Linked DNA regions of Homo sapiens. The protein of the gene in region 1 purifies or fractionates together with the protein of each later gene. This does not show direct contact. Each region holds a gene or a part of one and is shown in the gene's direction. Other genes may lie near its edges.

What was found.
Region 2: the proteins of SSH1 (region 1) and FLNC purify together in Homo sapiens (affinity purification with mass spectrometry, with the first as the bait; one large-scale study listed by BioGRID). This does not show direct contact.
Region 3: the proteins of SSH1 (region 1) and MYO5A purify together in Homo sapiens (affinity purification with mass spectrometry; one large-scale study listed by BioGRID and IntAct). This does not show direct contact.
Region 4: the proteins of SSH1 (region 1) and PSMB2 purify together in Homo sapiens (affinity purification with mass spectrometry, with the first as the bait; one large-scale study listed by BioGRID). This does not show direct contact.
Region 5: the proteins of SSH1 (region 1) and MYO6 purify together in Homo sapiens (co-immunoprecipitation; one large-scale study listed by IntAct). This does not show direct contact.
Region 6: the proteins of SSH1 (region 1) and TMOD1 purify together in Homo sapiens (co-immunoprecipitation; one large-scale study listed by IntAct). This does not show direct contact.
Region 7: the proteins of SSH1 (region 1) and ARPC2 purify together in Homo sapiens (co-immunoprecipitation; one study listed by IntAct). This does not show direct contact.

Annotation. Positions count from the first base shown.
Region 1 is NC_000012.12:108,777,691-108,781,137, reverse strand, and holds the end of SSH1 (protein phosphatase Slingshot homolog 1), read left to right. Parts: 3' UTR 1-2,947; downstream 2,948-3,447. UniProt on the Homo sapiens protein: Protein phosphatase which regulates actin filament dynamics. Dephosphorylates and activates the actin binding/depolymerizing factor cofilin, which subsequently binds to actin filaments and stimulates their disassembly.
Region 2 is NC_000007.14:128,840,406-128,843,905, forward strand, and holds part of FLNC (filamin-C), read left to right. Parts: intron 1-142; coding exon 143-269; intron 270-428; coding exon 429-565; intron 566-764; coding exon 765-958; intron 959-1,048; coding exon 1,049-1,162; intron 1,163-1,825; coding exon 1,826-1,969; intron 1,970-2,169; coding exon 2,170-2,293; intron 2,294-2,388; coding exon 2,389-2,549; intron 2,550-2,823; coding exon 2,824-2,914; intron 2,915-3,002; coding exon 3,003-3,172; intron 3,173-3,390; coding exon 3,391-3,500.
Region 3 is NC_000015.10:52,518,881-52,522,380, reverse strand, and holds part of MYO5A (unconventional myosin-Va), read left to right. Parts: intron 1-3,500. UniProt on the Homo sapiens protein: Processive actin-based motor that can move in large steps approximating the 36-nm pseudo-repeat of the actin filament. Can hydrolyze ATP in the presence of actin, which is essential for its function as a motor protein. Involved in melanosome transport.
Region 4 is NC_000001.11:35,631,527-35,635,026, reverse strand, and holds part of PSMB2 (proteasome subunit beta type-2), read left to right. Parts: intron 1-3,489; exon of another isoform or gene 3,490-3,500. UniProt on the Homo sapiens protein: Non-catalytic component of the 20S core proteasome complex involved in the proteolytic degradation of most intracellular proteins. This complex plays numerous essential roles within the cell by associating with different regulatory particles.
Region 5 is NC_000006.12:75,747,979-75,752,038, forward strand, and holds the start of MYO6 (unconventional myosin-VI), read left to right. Parts: upstream 1-1,260; 5' UTR 1,261-1,445; intron 1,446-4,060. UniProt on the Homo sapiens protein: Myosins are actin-based motor molecules with ATPase activity. Unconventional myosins serve in intracellular movements. Myosin 6 is a reverse-direction motor protein that moves towards the minus-end of actin filaments.
Region 6 is NC_000009.12:97,564,166-97,567,665, forward strand, and holds part of TMOD1 (tropomodulin-1), read left to right. Parts: coding exon 1-3; intron 4-1,682; coding exon 1,683-1,790; intron 1,791-3,500. UniProt on the Homo sapiens protein: Blocks the elongation and depolymerization of the actin filaments at the pointed end. The Tmod/TM complex contributes to the formation of the short actin protofilament, which in turn defines the geometry of the membrane skeleton.
Region 7 is NC_000002.12:218,237,689-218,241,188, forward strand, and holds part of ARPC2 (actin-related protein 2/3 complex subunit 2), read left to right. Parts: intron 1-975; coding exon 976-1,162; intron 1,163-1,702; coding exon 1,703-1,796; intron 1,797-3,500. UniProt on the Homo sapiens protein: Actin-binding component of the Arp2/3 complex, a multiprotein complex that mediates actin polymerization upon stimulation by nucleation-promoting factor (NPF).

The DNA of each region.
Region 1 (3,447 bases):
CCCTTCTAGGTAAATCTCTATGGGGTGCCAAATTTTGGTTAAGAATTGCTTATTGAATATTAAAAGTTTAGTGGGATGCTTCTTTTTTTTTTTTCTTTTGAGATGGAGTTTAGCTCTTGTTGCCCAGACTGGAGTGCAATGGTGTGATCTCAGCTCACCGCAACCTCTGCCTCCTGGGTTCAAGTGATTTTCCTGCCTCAGCCTCCCGAGTAGCTGGGAATACAGGCATGTGCCACCACGCCTGGCTAATTTTGTATTTTTAATCGAAATGGGGTTTCTCCATGTTGGTCAGGCTGTTCTCAAACTCCCAACCTCAGGTAATCCACCCGCCTTGGCCTCCCAAAGTGCTGGGATTATAGGCATGAGCCACCGCGCCAAGCCACAGGATGCTTCTAATAGTGTTATCAAGCTATAATGCAGCCCTCTCTGTAAAATGTTTTAAAAACAAATCACTGAGGGTCATGGTTCAAGACACTGTTCTCTGGCAAGGTTGAAGATAGCTAACAAATTCTCTTTGGGTTCCAGCCATGAATGGGGTGGGATGGGCCCCAGCAATCTGTATGTTTCTGAGATTCCCTGGGAATTCTGATGGCCAAGTTTAGAAACCATCAAAATAAGAATATGATGCAACTGAGTAGGCTCACGCTTTGCTAATTACATTGCACACATGCTTTTTGGAGACAACACCCACACTACCCTAACAATGTGTGTTCATAAAACTCATCCGATACTTATTTGTTCAAGGCCCTAGGACAATATTCCTGTAATGGGCTGCTTTTGCCCTGATTTCCTCCTCAGAGTAACTGTCTCGCGGTTGGGCACGATCCCAGATCACATCTACAGTGGAGGTGGTTTTGCTGGGGAGGATCCGCATGCTTGTTTGTGTTTATGCCTGGGGAACCCCCTCTTGGCAAGATGTTCGGGAGAGGCTCCAAAGGCAGCACAGAGGACGGCTTGGAACTTAGGGGGATTCACTTTATGGTAAAGAAGCCCTTTCTAAAGGAGAGCTCCACCCAGGAAACACCACCCACCCACGCATCCTTGCCTCCTAAAACCAGGTTATGTTTATCACATACCTTCTATGTGCTTTACATAAAGAATCCCCTGGAATTCTCCAAACTGGGCATTGTGGTCTGTGATGCATATCTCAAAAGAGGTGAGAGGGTTGGGCACGGTGGCTCACGCCTGTAATCCCAGCACTTTGGGAAGCCAAGGCAGGTGGATCACTTGAGGTCAGAAGCTCAAGACCAGCCTGGCTCACATGGTGAAACGCCGTCTCAACTAAAAATACAAAAATTAGCCGGGCATGATGGCGGGCGCCTGTAATCCCAGCTACTCGGGAGGCTGAGGCAGGAGAATCGCTTGAACCCAGGAGGTGGAGGTTGCTGTGAGCCAAGATTGCACCACTGCACTCCAGCCTGGGTGACAGAGTGAGACTCTGTCTCAAAAAACAAAAAAAAGAAAAAAAAAGGTAGAGGAGAGTCCTTTTTCTAACTTTCTTGAACTCTTTGGACTACCTTGGGATCCTTCTATTAACTGCCTTGTTGGCATTATTCTCAGTTTATGAAAAAACAGGCCCACAGAGTGGAAGTAATTTGCCTACAGGTACATCTAAAAATTGATGAAGCCAGATAGGAACTGCTCCCTCATCATCTGAAACCCTTCCCAGAGCTGTCTCTCCCACCCCAGAAGTAGAAAGAAGCCAGACAAAGATGCATCTTGATCTCCCTTGTGGTTTCAGCAAGGAAGCAGATGAGTTGGAGATGAAGCCCCCAGCCCCTGGGAAATTGGACCCACTTCTTGCTCCAAAGGCTATTGGGGTGACACAAGGTGTGTTTCTTTCCCGTAGATCATATTCACCATATTTTGCCTTTAAATGGAAATTGTGCATCCTGAAGTACCTTGTTAAGAGTCCATTTTCAACCTGAAATTCCTTTTTTTTGTAAACCACTTCAGCAAATACAGTGTGGCATTTACATTAGCAACCTCCCAGCCTAGGAGAGGATGCTCCAGCATCCGACTCTAAAAGACAAATTTGGGCACGGTGGCTTGACGCCTGTTATCCCAACACCTTGAGAGGCCGAGGCAGGCAGATTGCTTGAGCCCAGGAGTTCAAGACCAGCCCAGGTAACATGGTGAACCCCCATCTCTACCAATAATACAAAAATTAGCCAGGCATGGTGGTGTGCCAGTGGTCCCAGCTACTTGAGTGGCTGAGGTGAAGGATCTCCTGAGCCTGGGAGGCAGAGGTTGCAGTGAGCCGAGATCGAACCACTGCACTCCAGCTTATGCAACAGAGCAAGACCGTGTCTCAAAAACAAATAAAAATAAAAGATTTTAAAAAGACAAATTATCCCACAAATGGTACATTGTGGTGGTGGTGGTGGTGGTGGTGGTAGACCTCCCTCTTGCTCTTGAAATTGGATCAGAACAAACTGACAATGCTACCTACTTCATGGGGTCATTGGTGAATTCACTGATAATGCATGCAAATCCCCTTCTGCCTGGCACACTACCTAATAAATAAATGGTGGTTGTTATTGTTGGAATTGGAGGATATATTCCTAGTTGCAAGGGTTTCACATGTATTACCAAGTTAATCCTCACCGCAGATATGATTCTGTTTTACAGAGGAAGCAGTGGATGCTCAGAGAGGTTAGGTAACGTGGGTCAGGGACACACAGCCAGGAAGGGGCAGAGGCTGGGAGTGCCTGACTCCAAATTCATGCAATTTCTACCCCACCATCTTCTCCCCAAGGAAAATAGTCCCTAATGCATGTGTGCAATGCTTAGAGGGCAGTAGATGCTCAACAGATGCTGAGAGAGTGAGGGAGTAAATGAGATATGCCATGAAAAGGAGCCCCTGTGGACTTATGCGTGCGTTTGTTTAACTTGTGGGCAAGTACTTATAGACAGGTGCAAACAATAAATCTCCTTTTGCAACTGAGAACTTGTTGTTCAGTATGAGTTTTGATACATATAAGAAAGGCTATTATGATACCTAAGACAGTTAACTAAGGGAGGGAGTATTGATAACCATAAGTGTTAGTTGCAGGCTGGGCACAGTGGCTCATGCCTGCAGTCCTCTCACTTTGAGAGGCTGAGGTGGGAGGATTGCTTGAAGCCAGGAGTTCAAGACCAGCCTGGGCAAGAAAGCAACACCCCATCTCCACAAAACTTTAAAAGTTAGCTGGGTGTGGGGGCATGTGCCTATAGATGTAGCTACTCTAAAGGGGAGGCTGAGGCAGGAGGATTGCTTGAGCCCAGGAGTTGGAGACTGCAGTGAGCTTTGATGGCACCACTGTACTCCAGCCTAGTCAACAAAGTAAAACTTGTCTCTTAAAAAAAAAAAAAAAAACAAAAAAAAAGGTTCTAGGACTGTAGAATCATTAGCTTAAAAGCATAGGATTTGAGGGAAAACCTCAGTTATATTAATTTCGTATTCCA
Region 2 (3,500 bases), on another chromosome or scaffold:
CTGCCCTGAGTTGCAGCACTGCTCACTACAGCACTGCCCTCGGGCTGGGTCGGGGTCCCAATGGCTCCTTGAGGGGATTGAGGAGCTGGGACTTCAAGGATATTGATCTGCCTTCTTCCCCACCCTGCCCCCATCTCCTCAGAGGGCACAGAGGAGCCAGTGAAGGTGCGGGAGGCTGGGGATGGTGTGTTCGAGTGCGAGTACTACCCGGTGGTGCCTGGGAAGTATGTGGTGACCATCACGTGGGGCGGCTACGCCATCCCTCGCAGGTGAGTACCTTGCGCCCCCCATGCTGTCCTGTCTAGGCCATCACAGGGAGGGACGAGGGGCACTGGGCTGCGAGGGAGTTTGAGGGGAGATGGAGTTTGGGCTGCGAGGGACTTTGGGGGGCACTTCCTGGCATGGACACCAGCTCCCTCTCTGCCCAGCCCCTTTGAGGTACAGGTGAGCCCAGAGGCAGGAGTGCAAAAGGTCCGGGCCTGGGGTCCTGGTTTGGAGACTGGCCAGGTGGGCAAGTCAGCCGATTTTGTGGTGGAAGCCATTGGCACCGAGGTGGGGACACTGGGTAAGTGGCTGGGGGGCAGGAGGAGGGAGTGCTGCGGGGGAGGGCAGCAGGGGACACTGTGGGTAATGGGTGCAGTGCGCATGCTGGGGAGCGCTGGGGTGAGCAGGGAGATAGGACATGAGGGCAGCTAGAGGGGAGCTGGGGGACGGAAGGGTCTTGCCTGATGCTGGATCCCCGACCCTCCCCCACCTTGCCCCAGGCTTCTCCATCGAGGGGCCCTCACAAGCCAAGATCGAATGTGACGACAAGGGGGATGGCTCCTGCGATGTGCGGTACTGGCCCACGGAGCCTGGGGAGTACGCTGTGCACGTCATCTGTGACGATGAGGACATCCGAGACTCACCCTTCATTGCCCACATCCTGCCCGCCCCACCTGACTGCTTCCCAGATAAGGTGTGGTCCCAGCTCACACACACCTGCCCCGGGGGTGGGGCAAGCTGGTTCTCCTCCCCTCCCCAACTCAGCCTTCTTCCCTCCGCACAGGTGAAGGCCTTTGGGCCTGGCCTGGAGCCTACCGGCTGCATCGTGGACAAGCCCGCTGAGTTCACCATTGATGCTCGTGCAGCTGGCAAGGGAGACCTGAAGCTCTATGCCCAGGTAGGTCATTGTCCAGTCTCTGCTGCCCTTACTACCCATGGCAGGGACCCTGGAAGGCAGGGCCAGGCCAGAGGCAGAGGCCTCCCAGCAGGAAATGACAGCATCACAGAAGATCAGGCAGGACTGATACTCATGGGCCCATCAGTACCATGGAAAATTTTAAATTTTGTGTTTTCTTAACGATGATAACCTAAAAACGTATTTTACCAAAGAGTCATTTTTGTGCTAATTTGTAATTGAAAGATTGTTTCATTGAATAAGACACTGGTTTCCCAAGTCAGTTTCTCAGACTGGTGTCCATTGACCCCTAGAGGTTAATGAACATATTCTTGAGGATCTAAGAGGGTGATTCTTCTTTGAAAGGCTCATGATTCAGTTTTAGGAACATAAATTTAGCCCACACTCTTCCTGTCCAACACATTTCAGAGTTGAGGAAACCTAGGCTGGGAGAGCAAGCCATACAGATGGCCTTGAGTCAGGCTCCCAGGGTGGGCTCTGGCCGCCAGAGCACGTGGCCCTGGGCTCTGGTGGCCTCAGTGGCTGGTGTGGGGGCGGGAGTGCCAGTGTTGGGGGTGGGAAAGGAGGCGCTGGGTTCACCTGCGGCCAGCAGAGGGCGCTCTGCAGAGGCCACAGCTATGAACTTTGCTTGGGTGATGCCCACAGGACGCCGACGGCTGTCCCATCGACATCAAGGTGATCCCCAACGGCGACGGCACCTTCCGCTGCTCCTACGTGCCCACCAAGCCCATTAAGCACACCATCATCATCTCCTGGGGAGGCGTAAACGTGCCCAAGAGCCCCTTCCGGGTGCGTCCTCCCGGCCTGCCCCGTGCCCACCACCAGGGGTCCCTGAGGGAGGGCGGAACCCTCGCTGGAGTCCCTGTTGTCCCTGGGCTCAGGCTGGGACTGAGGCTTGGGCTGGTGCCACTGAGGCTGGGCCGGGTGCGCTGGGCAGGAGGATGAGCCTTGAGGGAGGGCACCACGCTGAGCTGCGACCCCTCCCGCAGGTGAACGTGGGCGAGGGCAGCCACCCCGAGCGGGTAAAGGTGTACGGCCCCGGAGTGGAGAAGACAGGCCTCAAGGCCAATGAGCCCACCTACTTCACGGTGGACTGCAGCGAGGCGGGGCAAGGTGCGCCCAGCCGGAAGGGGTGGGTCTGGGAGGGGGCGGGGGTGAGTCGAGTCGGGGGCTGAGCCCAACTCACAGCAGTGCCCGCTTCTCTGCAGGCGACGTGAGCATCGGCATCAAGTGCGCCCCAGGCGTGGTGGGCCCTGCAGAGGCTGACATTGACTTCGACATCATCAAGAATGACAACGACACCTTCACCGTCAAGTACACGCCACCAGGGGCGGGCCGCTACACCATCATGGTGCTGTTTGCCAACCAGGTACCTAAGCTCCTGGGTACTCACAGCGACATGCACCTGCCAGCTCCAGAAGGCAGCTGGAGATGCTGTCACTGGGAACAGGGAGGGATGATTCCGCAGACATGGTGGAGCCCTACCTGTGTGAGGCAGGGTGCCTCAGAGGAAGCAAAGGGGGCCCTTTTGGAGGCTGCCCCTGTCCATGCTGGGTCCCCTGGGTGTGTCCTGAGCCAGCATCTAGCTGAGAGCAGGGGTGTGTTCCCCTCGAGAGCCCTGACTGAGCCTCCTCCACATCCAGGAGATCCCCGCCAGCCCCTTCCACATCAAGGTGGACCCATCCCACGATGCCAGCAAAGTCAAGGCCGAGGGCCCTGGGCTGAATCGCACAGGTGAGTGTCTGGGCAGGGGCTGGGACTGGCTCGAGGTTGGGGTTAGGTGGCTGCCAGGCCCTCACCACATCTCTGGGTGGGTCCTCAGGTGTGGAAGTCGGGAAGCCCACCCACTTCACGGTGCTGACCAAGGGAGCCGGCAAGGCCAAGCTGGATGTGCAGTTTGCAGGGACAGCCAAGGGCGAGGTTGTGCGGGACTTTGAGATCATAGACAACCATGACTACTCCTACACTGTCAAGTACACCGCTGTCCAGCAGGTGCGCTCTGCCCCTCCCATGCTACCGCCCGGCCGGCCCGCCAGAGCCCTGGGTCTCCCTCCTCCAGTCCCATGGGACCAGTTCTGGATCCTCCACGCCTTTCCTGCCTCCTGCCCTCACTCTCATGGTGGATCTGAGCTTCAGAGCCCATATTCACCACCAGGATGTTGTAGGACCTTGCCTTATATCCAGTTCTGACCTACCATTGTACCCAACAGGGCAACATGGCAGTGACAGTGACTTATGGCGGGGACCCTGTCCCCAAGAGCCCCTTTGTGGTGAATGTGGCACCCCCGCTGGACCTCAGCAAAATCAAAGTTCAGGGCCT
Region 3 (3,500 bases), on another chromosome or scaffold:
ACCACCCCACTCCCAATCTTTCATCAACTTTATTGAGGTATAATATACTTGAAAAGTCCCTCATTTTAAGTGTACAGTTTGATGAGTTTTGACACATATATTCTGTCATGTAACCACCGCCACAAACAAGATGCAGAACATTTCCATCACCCCAAAAGTTCCCTTGTGCTTTGTCTCTTATCTTCCCCAACATCTTCAGGGAGTTTACTGGAGTTATGCTTGCTCATTAGGGCAGAAGGAAGTTTTTTCTTTTTGGTTTTTCCGAAATGAATGCTATGGTTCCACCTTAGCCCAACCAATAGAGATACTTATTACAAAGGCCTGGCATTGGAGATCATGGCTGTGGAGTTTCATTTTCAGTGGGAGGCGGAAGTGGATATAAAAGGAGTTTAGATGATTTTTGTTTAATCTTTCCTTCACACACTGACCACTTTGCCTTTATTAATGATGTCTGCCTTTGATGCCTTCTGAAATGCCCTTTGGTTAATTTTGCCCTTTAACGGTTCCTCTTCCCCATCTGTCTTGGTTGTAACATCAGTCTGAGTTTGTGCTGATACAACCTAAACTTTGCAGAAACTTATCCCTGGCTCTTCATGCCTCAGGCATTCTCCATTTCTCTTCTAAGCCCTCCTCACTTGGAATTCTTTTTAACTAGCAGGCATTAGCGTTAAATATCTCCTTGTACAGCAAAGGCTTTTTGCCAATTGTAGAACTTAGGGATGATGTAATTATTTTTTGATTTCAAAATAATGGTTCTAAACTTGATTGAAATCAAGGGAGAAGTGCATTGTACATAATGCACTAAGTGTTCATGAGGACCATGTATCTACCTCCTGTGGCCTAATGTACTACTGTGGCCAAAAATGTGGGCAAGATGCTGGGCTAGAGGGAGACTGGATGCACAAAAAAGATAGGTTTTGTCCATCTTTTGTCACATATACAAAAACATATAGTCCTGGCCAGGAATCCTGCATGTGTGGTTGGGGTTTCTACTTCTTGACAAATGTACATGAAACTAGAGAAATTTCAGAATAGGAGAAGTAAAATGATCAGGGCAGTGAAGAGGCTAGACAGATTAAAGGTGTCGAACTCTCTAGTTTAGAAAGATGAAGGTGAGCTGGGAATACAGTAGAGGTTTTTTTTTTTTTTTTTTGAGACAGAGTCTCGCTCTGTCACCCAGGCTGGAGTGCAGTGGCGTGATCTCAGCTCACTGCAACCTCTGCCTCCTGTGTTCAATCGATTCTTCTGCCTCAGCCTCCCGAGTAGCTGGGACTACAGGCATGTGCCACCACCCCTGGCTAATTTTTGTATTTTTAGTAGCGATGGGGTTTCACAGTACTGGCCAGGCGGGTCTCGAACTCCTGACCATGTGATACGCCTGCCTCGGCCTCCCAAAGTGCTGAGATTACTGGCGTGAACCACTGTGCCCAGCCCTATAGTAGACTCTTTGACATCCAGAATAGTGGAAGTTTGTAACATCAAATCTCAGTTTAGTAGGGATATGTTTTAGATCTTGAAACAAATCAATATATGCCATTTTAAATGAATTTCTACTTTAAACATTTACATTTTACATTTCTGAAACTCATCACTTCAAGTTATGGTATTAGCTGAGGTACAGGATGTAAATAGAGAGGGTCTGGGTAATTTATGGATGAGAGGTTTGGCACATTGACTTACCAAACCTCTCTTTAACAGTGTTAGTCAGTTTACCAGCCACAGCTGTTTTAGTTGGAAGAAACAGAAACCCAAACTCAAAGCCAAAGAGGAGTTTATTTGCTCATGTGACTTAAAAATCTAGGCATGGCTGGAATCAAGGCTCAGACATGGTCATTGGGGCTCTCTTCACTGACTCTCACATGCTGTCTGACATTGGTTTCATCCTGAGGGCAGCTTTTTTTAGGGGTGAAAAGATGGTCAGTGGCACCTGCAGATCACATGATCTTACAGCACTGGGCCTGGAGGAAGAGAGCCTGATAGAGGAATTCTGGTCATGTGCCTTCTCCTTTCATTGGGCCTCTAGGCAGTAGGTGAGGAGCACCATGAGTGGTCAAGTCTGTGCTCACCCCAGAGACCAGGGGGAGGACAGGGCACTGTGATTGATAGTCCTACTCCAACCTCATGGGATGGCTGTGAGCTGTTCGCCATTGGAAGGAAAAGTGCTAGGTAGTCAAAATAAACAACTACCCTCAGTCCATGTATGCTATGAATAGGTCACTGAAAATGATAGTCATGGAATTCTACCCCTCCTTTTCTGATCTTTGAGCAAGAAGAATGGGAAATTTTGCTTGACCGGGGACATTAGGTATCTTTCCCCTAGAGAATCATTTTGGATTGAAAAATAGAAGCCAGGCCAGGTGCGGTGGCTCATGCCTGTAATCCTCAGCACTTTGGGAGGCCAAGGCGGGCGGATCATGAGGTCAGGAGCTTGAGACCAGCTTGGCTAACACGGTGAAACCCTGTCTCTACTAAAAATACAAAAATTAGCCGGGCGTGGTGGCGTGTGCCTGTAATCCCAGCTACTCAGGAGGCCGAGGCAGGAGAATCGCTTGAACCCGGGAAGCAGAGGTTCCAGTGAGTTGAGATCGTGCCGGTGCACTCCAGCCTGGGCGACAAAGCAAGACTCTGTCTCAAAAAAAAAAGCCATGGAGCGTCTGTGCAAGCAAATGTTACTAATAGCATGTTAGAAATTGAAATTTTGAAAATTTATTCAGTCTTCAATTTTGATTTTTCATGTATTATTATTATTATTATTATTATTATTTTTTTTAGACAAGGTCTCGTTCTGTTGCCCACACTAGAGTGCAGTAGCGCAAGCATAGCTCACTGCAGCCTCGAACTCCTGGGCTCAAGCAGCCCTCCCAGCTCAGCCTCCTGAGTAACCGGGACTGTAAGCGCATGCCACCATGCCTGGCTAATTTTTTAATTTTTGTAGAGACAGAGTCTCACTTTGTTTCTCAGACTAGTCTCAAACTTTTGGCTTCAAGCAATCTCCCACTTAATTATCCCAAAAGTGCTGAGATTATAGGCGGGAGCTACCATGCCCGGCCATTATTCAGTCTTAATTTGGGGGCTATGAACCCTATGTCACCTTTCTTACTGATTTCTTTCTACCGTATTTCCTCAGCATTTTATTTCCCCTATTTTCTTCACATCCTTGCTTGCATACGTTATTCTCTTCCCCTATTTTCATACATAGATAAGTTGCACGATTTCTTATTGCACAACAGTAAGAATTGTGCACAATTTCTTTTTGCCTGTCCGTCATTCCTTGTTCATGTCTAGTGGTAGTCTGTCTTCTGTTCTCTTCCTTCCACCTGTTCATCTGCTTTATCCCCCTACTATTTAATTTTATCTACCCACCCCTTATGCCCTGTTATGATTTGTTATAACGAAGTATATATACATCCCACACCTATAATGGAATAAAATAAGTTACTAAAGGGTGAATCTTTTTTTCATAACTTAGATTGAGGAGGGAACTTCATTTTTGTTTTTGC
Region 4 (3,500 bases), on another chromosome or scaffold:
CGGCCTCCCAAAGTTCTGGGATTACAGGTGTGAGCCACCACGCCCGGCCTTCTACAAAAAAGTTTTTAAAAATTAGCTGAGTGTGGTGGCATGCACCTATAGCCCTAGCTACTCAGGAGGCTGAGGCAGGAAGATCGTTTGAGCCCAGGAGGTCGAGGCTGCAGTGAGTTATGATTGTGCCACTGTACTCTGGAAGGCAGCAAGACTCTGTCTCTAAAAAAAATTTTTTTAAACCAACCAAAAAAAAAAAAACCCAACACCATCTTGGAGGTAGGGATGGTAGTATCAGACTTTTTAAGTGTTAGATATCTCAGAGGATGTGGTTTGAGTTTAAAAGTATCTGAACCTGGCCAGGCACAGTGGCTAGCACCTGTAATCCCAGCACTTTTGAGAGGCTGAGATGGGAGGATCACTTGAGGTCAGGAGTTTGAAACCAGCCTAGGCAACAAAGCAAGACCCTGGCTCTATAAAAAATAAAAATATTTACCTGGGTGCAGTGGTGCACACCCATAGTCCCAGCTACTCAGGAAGCTGAAGTGGGAAGATCACTTGAGCCCAGGAGTTCAAGGTCTCAGTGAGCCATGATAGTGCCACTGCACTCCAGCCTGTGCGACAGAGTGAGACCCTGTCTCAAAACAAAGAAACAAAAAAATCTGAATCTCAGCGTCAAAAAACCTAAGTAAACCTTGGCTTTACTATTTTTTATGTGATAAGTCATTTATCTTCTCTGGGACTTTATTTTCCTTATCTCTGAAATGAATTATAATACTAATGAATAATACATATGAAAATATTTTGTAAACCTAAAGCATTGTGTAACTAACTATAAGTATTTACTGTGCCATAAAAGGGTTCTGCCTTACTCTCTGGTAGGTTTCCTTCTAGAGAGATAATTAAGACTTTTGTGAAGTATTTTGTGAGCTCTCTCTGGGGCTAATGAACTCTTATCCACTGGGAAAACCTCCCTAGCAAACGATACTAGCCACTAGGCCTCTGATCCAGGAATGTTTGTAGTGGTGGTCTGGCAGAGAAAACCTTATTTCCACTTACCTCACAGTTCAATAACAACGTTATACACTGCACTGGTATAATATGGAGCTATGAAGGAAGTTAATTTGAATATACTTGCATGTGTAAAATGACCAAAGATCTATTCACATAGTTTGGGCAGTGGATTTAGCATTTGTATTCAATTCCATAAATACTTTTGAGGGCCTCTTCTATGGTAAGCATTCTGCTTAATACTTAAGAGAATTCAAAGATGAATAAGGCTTAGTCCTGACATTCAGGAACATAAAGTACATGGTACTTAGGTTTATGCAGGTTTAGAATATTTCAAGAATTCTGCTTTTTTTTCCAGTGGTTCCACTTTTTGCCTGCATAACAAATGAAGTATGTCAGTAATGCTTCTGAAGTCCAGTAGGTACTGTATGACTTCACTGGCTGTCCTGAGAGAGGGAGAAGAGTGAACAAGAGTAGCAAGAGTTGTTTGTTACTGGGTTTTAGGGTCTAAAGTCAGTGCACAGACAAAAACTGTGTTTGGTTAAAATTGCCCTTAAAGACCCTTAAATTACCTGCCAAGTACAGTTTTGTGTATGTAACTCTATATAGTAATTCTTATATAAGTTAAAGAACTGAGCTAAAATAAGGGAAAGAAAGAGAAAATCTATATGCAGATAATCAGGCATGACTTTTCTGCCTTTAGGATAATGGTCAGATCTTCAGTGGTGTTTAGGGGGTTAAGTAAAGAATTGAATAGTATTCCCACTTGTCTAGGTTCCTTCTTTTTTTTTTTTTTTCTTTTTTGAGTCAGGGTCTCGTTCTGTTGCTCAGATTGGAGTGCAGTGGTGCAGTCTCAGCCCACTGCAACTTCCAGCTCCTGGGTGCAAGTGATTCTCGTGCCTCAGCCTCCTGAGTAGTTGGGATTATAGGCATGCACCGCCATGCCTGGCTAATTTTTTGTATTTTAAGTAGAGACAGAGTTTCGCTATGGTGGCCAGGCTGGTCTTAAACTCCTGTCCCCAGGTGATCCACCCACCTGGGCCTCCCAAAGTGTTCTGGGATTACAGGTGTGAGCCACTGTGCCTGGCCTCTTTTTTTAAATTATTATTATTATTTTTGTTGTTGTTGTTGAGACAGGGTCTCACTCCTGTCGCCTGGGCTGGAGTGCAGTGGCACAATCATGGCTCATTGCAGCCTCGAATTCCCAGGCTCAGGTGATCCTTCCACCTCAGCCTCCCAACTACCTGGGAAAACAGGTGTGCACCACCACCCCTGGCTAATTTTTATATTTTTAGTAGAGACGGGGTTTCATCATGTTGCCCAGAATGGTCTTAAACTCCTGGGCTCGAGTGATCTGCCTGCCTCCGCTTCCCAAAGTGCTGTGATTACAGGCATGAGCCACTGCACCTGGCCAAGGATTGCTTTCATTATGATTTAATATGCACTAATAGACTTGTGAGGATAAAGTACAATAATACATGTGAAAACACTCAGCATAGACCCTGAAACATAGTTGCTGCTCAATAAATATTTGTTAGGATTTGAATCTGAATCTCTCCTAATTTGACAGTGGTATTTGAAATGTTGTAAGCAATTACTTAACCACACTGCTGTGTGTCTTTCCATACTGACATTTTCTGTGTGGGCCCACTGAGTTATGGATCATTCTTGTGCCTTTTGGCACTGGTCCCATTCTACAGGGGGATTAAGCTCCAAAGTGAATGCGTTATTACATGCACACCTGATGCTATTCCTCTGGGTTGTACCTTTGTTGGTATGACAACTTTTATTTTTGAAGTTTTAACACTTGAGATACTCTATTTTTAAAAATACTGCAGAATGATGGAAATGTTCTTTTTCTGTGGCTTATACTTTTGAAAGTCATATTATACTTCTTAATAAAGTAACATTTAAAATATTTTTTTAATAAACTATGACTCTGAGGTAGTCCTAACTTCTAGCCTCTCTTTTCCCAATATCCTTTTTGTTCCTGTTTTCGTTTTTTTAGAGACAGGGTCTTGCTCTGTCACCCATGCTGTAGTGCAGTGGCACAGTCATAACTCACTTGAACTTCTGGGGTCAATTGATCCTCTCCACTCAGCCTCCTAAGTAGCTGGGATTACAGGCATGTACCACCATGCCTAGAAATTTAAAAAAAAATTTTTTTTAGAGATGGGGGTCTCACTATGTTGCCCAGGCTAGTCTCAAACTCCTGGGCTCAAGCGATCTTCCCACCTTGGCTTCCCAAAGCTCTAGGATTACAGGCATGAGCCACTGTGACTGGCCCCCAATATCCTTTTTAAAATAAACTTTTAAAAGATTGGCATCTAAGACGCCTTTCTTTTTTTTTCACTTCTTGTGTATTCGTGTTCCTTTCCTTCTACGGCAGAAACCACAGTGTGTTGATGAATGAATAGTTTAAGCAAGGCTGCTAGAAGTTTCATTCCACTATAGAACTGGTTCTGTTTGTGGCCAAGAATTGCTGTCAGTACTAACCA
Region 5 (4,060 bases), on another chromosome or scaffold:
AATCCAAAATTGAGTCAGAGCAGTGTGAACTGAGACAGCCATCTTCATCTTCTCCCTCTTTTTTTCAGTTTGTTTTGAAATTTAGTTTTATATACTTAAGACTTACCTTCTGGCAATTTGGAATTAAATTTCTGAGATTGCTGTAAATTATTTCCTTTCTTTGTTTCTCTTCCTCTTTCTTACTTCCCTATTTTACTCTTAATATTTTATTGTTTTAGTTGAATTCTAAAACATCTTATCAGAACTTAGAGTTTTTATTTCTCCACCCACAGAACCATGGAGTCTTTAAGTATCAGAAATTTGTCTCCTCGTCAGAATCTTCTAGATTTCCAGAAGTTTCCAAGTCGCTACATATAAATGTTGCAGAAAAACGTGTAATTCTCATGTGCAAGTAGGCTTTTTTCAGCGGATACATTTAGCATTATAGTCAATTGTTATTTCGTTGCCTTAAAAGAAGCTGTTTTCATTGTAAAGGTGATGTGTTTTTACCATATAATTCAAATTTGCATAGGTACTTCATATTTTAAAAGGTGACTCACAGGTATGTCACTAATAAAAACAGTAACATTTAAACGACTGAGAAGGTAGGGGCTCTAAATAAAGTAAATGCGTCGGCGAGGGTAGGAGCGGGAAGAGGCAAAGGGGTGCGAAATTCCCATCCCAAGCCCCCTCCTCCAAAGACCGAATGGCAACTTAGTTGTGCGGGAAGGTTCCCCCCTATGCAGGGCAGCCCAGTCCAAGCCGGCCCGATCCGGGGCCGAGTGAGCAGTGGTTCTTGCCGCAACCGCCACGCAGCCTCGCTGCCGCCCAAGCGCGGACACCTGGTTCCTGGGTCCCCCGCGCGGAGCCCCGGACTCCTCGCCCCTTCTCCGAACAACTTTCTCCCTGCTTGAACTGATTCTCGCTGTTGGTAGACTGCACAGTCACAGTATCCAGCCGGACAGGACCTGCTTTGCCGGGACTGGAAACAACTACCGCGGCAAAAGAGGCCGTTTCGCCATGGGAAGAACAAGAACTCCCGGCTTGTCCAGGGGCAGCCCCTCTCTGCGCTGCAGGGCGCCTACCCTCGCCCCAGAGGCTCTGCGCCGCGGGCGGGGCGACCCCGGGGGTCGCGCGCCCTCTCCCGGAGCGCGCCCTCCCTCCCGGAGCGCGCGCCCGACGGCCTGCCGCGGCCCCGGCGCCCCCGCCCCTTCGGGCGCTCCGTAGCCGTGACGTGCACGCCGCAGTGCCGGGGACTCGGCGGGGCGCCGGCCGGCGGGCGGAGACCGACTCGGGATCTGTCCGAGCAGGAAGCCAGCCTCAGCCCGGCCGCTGTCGCCGCCCTGTCCTGGTGCCCGTCCGCGTCGTCGCCCTCTTCACTGGCCCTCATCACTTCTCACCGCGCCCTCCAGCTTCACCCGTACAGGTAGCCCCGCCGCCGCGCACCTGCCTTCGCTCCCGCACCGGTGAGTGTCCCAGAGACCCACTGCGGGGCGTCGGCGCCGGGGTCTCGCGTTCCCTGGCCCGGCCTTGCTCCCGGGCCTCCTCGAGCAGCTCCGGGGCCGACGCTTCTGTTCACTGCCCGAGGACGCGGGTGGGAGAAGCAGGTGATGGATGGGTGGGCCCTGGGCAGCAGTGGGGCCGGCGGTGGTTCTCGTTTCCACCGAAAGACAATCAGTCTCCTTTCATGGGTTCTCATCACCAAGGTCCCTTTGTGTTTCTTCCCTGGCTCCCAGGTAGAAGCAGAGCACTCAGGTGCCTAACTCGGACTTGGACACTCCGTGATAGTTTTATTTTCTCTTTTGTAAACACGCTTAAAATTCAGTGCAGGGGGAGCGCAGTTTGCTCTGAGATGTGAAGATCAAATGATACCATTAATAGTCTAATCATGTAGGAGACCAGATCGAGACTTTCTAAAGCCTTATTCTTAGTCTCCAGGTGGTCCAGTACCTTGAGTATGTTAATTTACGGATATGCTACTGAACAAGAACTTTTTTTGTTAATTTCCAAAAACTCCCTAAAACGATTAAAATGCTTAAACTCTGGGATTTTAATTTTAAGTAGGACACAATTTGATGGGGTTATTGCTAGAACATCCGTGTTTAAAAGTATTTCCATACAGTTTAAAAAATTCATTACCTTTTTTTTTTTTTTTTGAGACGGAGCCTTGGTCTGTCGCCCAGGCTGGAGTGCGGTGGTGCGATTTCCTCTCACTGCACCCTCCCCCTCGCGGGTTCAAGCAATTCTCTGCCACAGCCTCCCGAGTAGCTGGGATTACAAGCGCCCACCACCACGCCTGGCTAATTTTTTTGTATTTTTAGTAGAGACGGGGTTTCACCATCTTGGCCAGGCAGGTCTTGAAATCCTGACCTCTTGATCCATCCGCCTCGGTCTCCCAAAGTGCTGGGATTACAGGCGTGAGCCACTGCGCCTGGCCAAATATTCTTTACATCTTACCTGGCATAAAGTGATGTGGTGGAGGGATGCTTAAATCCTGATTTACAAGTATTAGTGAGAAATGAGGAGCACTGCCCTAACTTAATAGACTTAACTGTACGGGCTAAATAAGCCTCATTTTTTTTTTTTTTTTAATGCTCTGGTGGTATAGATGCAGTCTATCTAAATAAAGTCAGAACTTGAGAGTTTTAAAAATTAACTTTTTTTTTTTTGAGACAGAGCCTCGCTCTGTCAGCTCACTGCAACCTCCACCTCCCAGGTTCGAACGATTGACCTCCCTCAGCCGCCCGAGTGGCTGGGACTACAGTAAGGGCGCGCCACTGCCCAGCTAATTTTTGTATTTTTAGCAGAGACGGGGATTCGCCATGTTGGCCAGGCTGGTCTCGAACTCCTGACCTCAGGTGATCCACTCGCCTCGGCCTCCCAAAGTGCTAGGATTACAGGCTTGAGCCCCCGCGCCTGGCCTGAAAATTAACATTCTTAAGATTTAGCTGAAACTTATCTTCACACCATAAAACGTGAATCTTGAACTTGGACTGGTAGTGGTCATGGTACAAAGGTTGGCGGCAAAACAGCATTTCTGTACAAATTAACTGAACTTCCTAGATGTCTTGGGTTGTGGTTTTCAAACTGGAGAATGTTTAGTGAAAAAATTACCTTTGTGCCTTTTTTCCTTAATTGTAGAAACCGCCACAAATGTTACAAAGTGGGCTATAGCCAGAGCTTGAAACCATGCTGCCGTTCAAAATAGCTCACAGACTTTTATATATACAGCTCATTTTGAGTATTTTACGTTACGCAGGAATTGCATCCACTTTGGTAAACAGAAGTCATTTTAGTCTTATGTACATTTGCCCATTATTTTTGTATTTTTTGTGTGACATGCTGTTTATCATTCTCTCATCTTTGTAAGTTACATTTTTGTTTTCAGAAACCATTGTAAATGTAACAGAAGTATGAATGACATTTAAGGAAAGATCATGATTAAAAACTGTATAATATATAAAACTATATATGATATACATATATATTCTTGGTTAGTGCCTAGAAACATGAGCAAGAAAAATGTTATGAACAATTACAATATTTAATGTAAATTAATGCAATTAAATATTGCATTAAAAACAAAAGATCGTAAATCATAACCAGTAGGGATTATCTGAAATGGATTTTTCCCTGTTTATGTTTACGTGGTCAAGTTTTAAAATAACAGTGGCCAGGAAATCTGAGAGAGGCTGAAGGCTCTGTTCTCATCCTGTTGTGACTTTGCCTGGAGTCTGTGGTGTATCATGTAGCCCATTGTTTAGACAACTGGGCTGTATCTGGGTTCCAAAATGTAGCTTTCTTTAGAAAGTTTTAAAGACTTTGACCATGTGAGGCTTGAACAAATGCAAACATCCAAACATTGAAAAAAACCCATTTTAACTTTCTGTTGATAGTTGAGACTCCATTTTTGACATGTAAAATACCAGTTTTAAGAAGAGTTTACTAACCTCTGTGTAGTTTCATTTTTATATATTAAAATATCTAAAAATATTGGGAAGTGTTATAACTTAAATAAATCTCAGAGTTTATTTATTCTTTTTTTTTTTTTTCTCTGAGATGGAGTCTTGCCCTGTCATCC
Region 6 (3,500 bases), on another chromosome or scaffold:
CGGGTAAGGTCCATTTATTTCACTTTACCTGTGTGTGGCTGGGGGAGGGGGAACCATGTCACCCAAATGCAAACGGTCCAGGGTTGGTTGTGCAGAGTAAACAGGGTCCTGTTTGGATTCTGGGTGTTTCTGCATTGGGAATAGGGACAAAACCTTTGCAAATGGGAGCCTTTAAGAGGGGTGGGCAGTGTAAACAAGTGCATCTGGCAGTCCTGGTTTCTTTCTGAGGATGATATCAGGCCCAGATGTTTAGCACGGGCCAACCCAGCTTTGATCTGGAAACCTGCCACGTTATTCAAAACACTGAGAGATTCTCCGAGATAAAATCATGAGTCAGACACACGCTGCTGCATGGGATCTCAAGGCTGGAAAAGTCCGGTGCCCACTAGGCTCGGGGGTAACACAGGCCCTGGGCAGGCCCCTCCCCTGTGCCATCGCTGCTGCTATATCACGTTCATATTCAGCCTTGTTTTACAGCCACAGAAGGGAGCTGTTGGCCAAAATGTCCAAAGCGATATCCCAAGCTGTCTGCCCTTTTCTCTGTGCACATTTCCTTATGTGATCCCGGGGCAGGGGAGGGACAGGTGGACAGGCAGTCTCACCCTGAACAGGCCGCCGCAGGAAGAATTCAGAGACAAATGCAGCTTTCTACCCACCTGCTGAGCCCAGAGACCAGTGGATTAGTTCTGGGAGGGGGGTGGGGGTAAGACTAGAAGCCAGCCCCCCATGCCCCTGCTCCACTTTCTTTCCTTCTCCACTTTATTTTAAGCAGCTGCCAGCCCCACGGCACCATCAGATTGGAAACCTGCACCCTAGTGTTCACCCCCACCTGGCCTCCCCATGCTCTGCTCCCATGGGAGCTAAAGTGACGCTCTGAGAGATTGGTAAAAACACAGCCATGTTTTCTTTCATGTGCCCAGTAGGAGACATTGGCACAATTCAGAATGCTGCCCACTGGCAGTGAATGCTGCCTCAGGGCCACATGAGGGATGGAATCTCCCTGTGAGGCCCCAGCCTCCTCTGGGCCTCAGTTTCTCCTCTGCACTGTGAGCCTGTTGGACCAGATCAGTGGTTTTCACCTGAGAAGATTAAAAAATATATACCAACGCCCAGGCCTGACCCTAGAGATTCTGATTCTATTGTTCTGGGCCGGCCCAAGCATCACCATTTTGTAAAAGTTCCCCAGGAGTCTCTGATGTGCCGCTGGAGCAGAGACCCCCTGGGGTAGATGTCTCTTAAAGAGTATCATATGCAACCCCCTTACCTGTTTTCCAGAAACAGGGCCAGAGAGGGCAGGAGGCTTCCACAGAGACACCTAGCAAGTCAGGAACATTGCCGATCATTGGGACCAAGGCCAGGTTCCAGCCCCTCTCACACCCCTAGTCCTAGCTCTTTGCACAATACTACACGCCTTAATTTTTGCCTCTTCTCTGGCCCCCAAGTGCACAAAGAAAGAGGTTACAGGTCTTATCTGAAATTTTCAGGGAGGATTTTCTAAATCTGTTTACCAGAAAGTTCTCCCCAGATTTCAGTCGTCCGGGACAAAGCCTAAACCTTTTGCCCATTCAGCTTTTTGGCCAGAGACTTGCCAGGAATCAGAGAGTAGCCAGGCTAATCCACCTGCCTCAGCCTGTCCCAGAGGAGGCTTCTGGTCACTCTCTCTGTTGCCTTTCTTTGTGCAGAATATCCCCATCCCCACCCTCAAGGCATATGCAGAAGCCCTGAAAGAAAACTCATATGTGAAGAAGTTCAGCATCGTGGGGACACGGAGTAATGACCCCGTGGCGTATGTATGTACCTTTCTGTTCTGTTGCATTGTGGCTGGGGGCCTTGAAACAGAAGGGTTGAAATATGTGGCCTCAGGACTGGTTGTATCCCACTAACAAAGAGCTCTATGTGGTACAGTGGAAGGCATTGGACCAGGAGCCATGAGGGGTGTAGAGGGAACAGCCATCACCTGGCACCACCTACACGTCATCCTGGCCAATCCTCACACCCACTTCTGGTCTCAGATGTGCAGTTCTCCCCACTTTGCACTTAAAAAATCTAGGGTTCGGAGAGGTCAGGCAACTTGTTTTGTCCAGTCACACAGCAAGTGAGAGGTGGACCTGCAAGTCCAGTGCAGTCACGTGACCCCTAAATCTTCACTCGGCACATCATATTAGAACAAGAGCCTGCCCTTCCCTGTTCCTCAGTTTTTCCATCTCTAAAATCAATGGTTTTGGTTGGGCGCAGTGGCTCACACCTGCAATTCCAGCACTTTGGGAGGTCAAGACGGGTGGATCACTTGAGGTCAGAAGTTCGAGACCAGCCTGGCCAACATGGTGAAACCCCGTCTCTACTAAAAGTATAAAAATTACCTGGGCTTGGTGGTGCATGCCTGTAATCCCAGCTACTCGGGAGGCTGAAGCAGGAGAAGCACTTGAGCCCAGGAGGCGGAGGTTGTAGTGAGCCGAGATTGCACCACTATACTCCAGCTTGGGCGACAGAGCGAGGCTCCATCACAAAATAAATAAATAAATAAATAAAAATTTAAAAAAATAAAAATGATGGTTTCATCAGCAGGTCCCAATGACCAATTTTATTTTATAAGTCTCAAAAGATATTTCTGATCAAATTAAATTGTACTTACTCTGAAGTAGCCATCAACTCTTCTTTTTAAACATCCAGCACATATGTATTGAGAGTCTCTCTGTGCCCAACGCTGAATTAGGTTCTGGGAATACAATTGTGACCAGTCTCAGCTTCCACTTTCATAAAGATTCTGGTCCATTTGGCCAAGCAGACAACTAAAGGGTAACAGTACAGTGCAATTACTGCAAAGCTAGATTCCTGCAAGAAGGGCAGAAGCTAGTTTATCAGGGCTAGTAATTAACCATTTAGTAGCAATCGATTTTTTTCTGATTCTTAAAATAGGTAAGACAGTGTTCTTTCATATTTTTGAAATAATAGAAATAGCTCACAGTCTCTCATTGCTGTCAGTGGGGAACCTCTGGATTGATGACCTCTGACCTCAGATCTCCATGGTTCCTTGCCCATAGGAACACAGCTGGCAAAGCCACATGCCCTGTATGCTACTATGTCATGGGTCAGAAACCAAGCACATCCATTCTGGCCCTCAGCTCAGGTCCACAAATGTTTTTTGGGCATGGACTCTGCCAGACCAACAGCTGATATCAGCCTATGCACACCAGTATGCCCGTGTCAAACACTGAGATGCTTCTGGGCCAGTTGGTAAATCAGGCTGCCAGAGCTCTGTCAGGGCCCCCACCGCCTGCCCTAGCTTTTCTCCTGGCCCCGGTTCCTCCACTGGGACCCAGCATACAAGGAGTTAACACCTGGCAAGACAGGGCCTCCAGGACCTGCTCAGCCACCAGCATGTCCAGTTGGATCAGCCTAGCAGGTTGCCTACTGGTTGTTATTTTGATTTTTTTTATTAGATTTGATTAAGCCAGGCCAGGCCTTTCCTGGGAGCAGGAAGGTTCTGGTGGAAGACACAG
Region 7 (3,500 bases), on another chromosome or scaffold:
CCCAAGTAGCTAGGATTACAGGCGCCCGCCACCATGCCTGGCTAATATTTGTGATTTTAGTAGAGACAGGGTTTTGCCATGTTGGCCAGACTGCTCTCAAAACTCCTGACCTCAGGTGATCTGCCCACCTTGGCCTCCCAAAATGCTGGGATTACAGGTGTGAGCCACCACACCCAGCAGTTTTTTTAAGGTCACAAAATGACAAGACTAGGATTTGGACCCAGTTCTGTTCGACTCAAAATAGAGTGCCCTACACTTATGTGTCATGCTGCATTTGGCAAGTCACGTCACTTCTTTGAATCTCCTTTTCCCTCTGCAAAACAGTAACCTTATCTAGCCTGCAGACTTCAAAGGTGGTTATGGAGATCAAATGAAGTAAAATGTTTTAAAAATTGTACAATATATACCAATAAAAGCTATTGGGGAGGTATATGTATGAACAGGTAGTTGGTTTTTCTACCCTGCCACCTCATAAAGAGTTTGCAGTGGCACGTAGAAGGGTTTATCTTATTATCACAAAGCTACCCATTTGCTGGCCATACTGATACTTGGCACATTAAACTATCAGAGAAATATATGTGGCTCCTTTACAACTGTGTCTAGAAGGGTACATTTCCAATCAGAGTTCCCAGGTTCTGACTTTCTCCCATTACATATTTGTAATTAGTCATCTTTGATACTGATTCAAATTTTTGATTAACATTAATTATATATATTTACAAGAATCTTATAAAAATTAAGATTTTATTTCACCTCATTTTGCCCTGTGAGATAGATGGAAATAGACTATATTCTACCCAGGTTAAAAGTACAGATAATGAGACAAAATGTCAATAGAACCTGAAAAAAGATTTTTTTAGTTGCCTCTAGTCTCTGTTTACTTGGTATAGATAGTATGCTGCTTTTTTTTTTTTTTTTTTTTTTAAATGTAACTGCTGGGTTGTTTTTTGTTTCTTGTTTTTTCTTTCCCTCCAGGATACAATGTCTCTTTGCTATATGACCTTGAAAATCTTCCGGCATCCAAGGATTCCATTGTGCATCAAGCTGGCATGTTGAAGCGAAATTGTTTTGCCTCTGTCTTTGAAAAATACTTCCAATTCCAAGAAGAGGGCAAGGAAGGAGAGAACAGGGCAGTTATCCATTATAGGGATGATGAGACCATGTGAGTATAGAATTTGGTCCTGAAGCCTGGATATGGCTGCTACACCACCATGGCACTTACTGAAAGAAATATGGCTTGGTCAAACTTTCAGCTGTATTGCGTGAAAATGTTTTTCTCATAAAATGTCTTAAGCCAGGAAGTAGATGATAGGGCAGAAATCAGCCACTCCTCCTACTCTCCAGATACTGAGAGCTGACAGATGGTGGAAAGAGAATCCAGTGCTTTCCTTTAAGGCACCACTGTTCTGAGTCATGTTTAAGAGTATAGCCTGGATAATCAGCAGGCAGGGTGACCATAGGTCCATGTTATATTTACAAGTCAATAAAATCTACTTCTGATAATTTCCATCTGCTGCCTCTCTTAGGGCATTCATTTTGTGCACTGACTTTGTTGACCATAAATATCATCTCATTTGGCACACCTTTATATTATGATTTAAGAGATTTATGACTTTAGCCTTCTGATGTACTTGTAGATCAAGTTATTGACAAAACCCCATTCTGATTCTGTACTTATCCTCATGGATTTTGTTCCTCTCAGGTATGTTGAGTCTAAAAAGGACAGAGTCACAGTAGTCTTCAGCACAGTGTTTAAGGATGACGACGATGTGGTCATTGGAAAGGTGTTCATGCAGGTATGGAGCAGACATCTTGGGGGAAACCCATGCATGGCGACTTATACCTTTGCACCCAAACATACCATGAGCGTAGGAAAGAGATCTAGCAACTCTACTGATGTTAGAATTTTTTTTTTTTTTTTCGAGACGGAGTTTCTCTCTTGTTGCCCAGGCTGGAGTGCAATGGAGTGATCTCGGCTCACTGCAACCTCCGCCTCCCAGGTTCAAGCAATTCTCCTGCCTCAACCTCCTGAGTAGCTGGGATTGTAGGCATGCACCACCACACCCAGCTAATTTTGTATTTTTAGTAGAGACGGGGTTTCTCCATGTTGGTCAGGCTGGTCTCAAACTGCCGACCTCAGGTGATGCCCATCTCGGCCTCCCAAAGTGCTGGTATTACAGGCATGAGCCACCATGCCCAGCCTTGACGTTAGAATTTGTTGAAGATTTAATAGACAACTCCCACAAAACTCAGTGAATATTTTTTGTTGCTGCTGCTGTTGTTTTGAGGTGGAGTCTTGCTCTGTCGCCAGGCTGGAGTGTAGTGGCACGAACTCAGCTCACTGCAACCTCCGCTTCCTGGGTTCAAGCAATTTTCCTGCCTCAGCCTCCCAAGTAGCTGGGATTACAGGCACGCGCCACCACGCCCAGCTAATTTTTGTACTTTTAGTAGAGATGGGGTTTCACCGTGTTGGCCAGGATGGTCTCAATCTCCTGACCTCATGATCCGCCCGCCTCAGCCTCCCAAAGTGCTGGGATTGCAGGCATGAGCCACCGCGCCCAGCCTGATATTTTTTTTCTCAGTGGTTTAGTTTTGCAGGACAGAACTAAAGGGTAAGTTGAGAATTAAACATACTAACTATGAATGAATGTTATGCATCCTTCCTACTGTGGGGTCTTTGACCTAAAACTTTGTCAGGTTTCCTAACCCTAACCTCTTGTGTTTCCTCAGATTTCTAGTAAGGTGGCTGCTCTTGGTTTGGTCCTAAGGTCTTTTCAGAATGGACTGTATAGCCAATTATTTGGTAGTAGATAACGCATGAACAGGTAGAGTTGTTGAACTGACAGACTGAGCCTGAGTTTGGATGGGTCACCATAGAGTACTTCCCTCACAAGAAGCTCATCTTAAGAAGAGTCATGAGAGGCCAGGCGCGGTGGCTGACGCCTGTAATCCCAGCACTGTGGGAGGCCGAGGTGGGCGGATCACGAGGTCAAGAGGTCAAGACCATCCTGGCCAACATGGTGAAACCCCGTCTCTACTAAAAAAATACAAAAAATTAGCCGGGTGTGGTGGCAGGCACCTGTAATCCCAGCCACTTGGGAGGCTGAGGCAGGAGAATCTCTTGAACCTGGGAGGCAGAGGTTGCAGTGAGCCAAGATTGCACCATTGCACTCCAGCCTGGGCAAAAAGAGCGAAACTCCGACTCAAAAAAAAAGAGAGTCCTGAGAGTTAGCAGGGCATTTTGTAATTGGATTTTTGGTGTAGTTGCATTCAGGTCATTGTGTACCAGTCTGCTGGCCAGTTAGTTGCTGCCTCTAGGATGGACATGAGAGTTCATTGGTCAAGTGACATTCAGGCTGGTTTCTTCTGAGATGGCTCAGCATTCAAAATCTAGTACAATGGTAAAATTTTTTGAAAACGTTACTACCTTCATTCTGTTCCTTGGCAGGGTGGTAAAGATTTTTAAATTCTGAAGCAGAATCTCTTTTGCCAAATAGAGT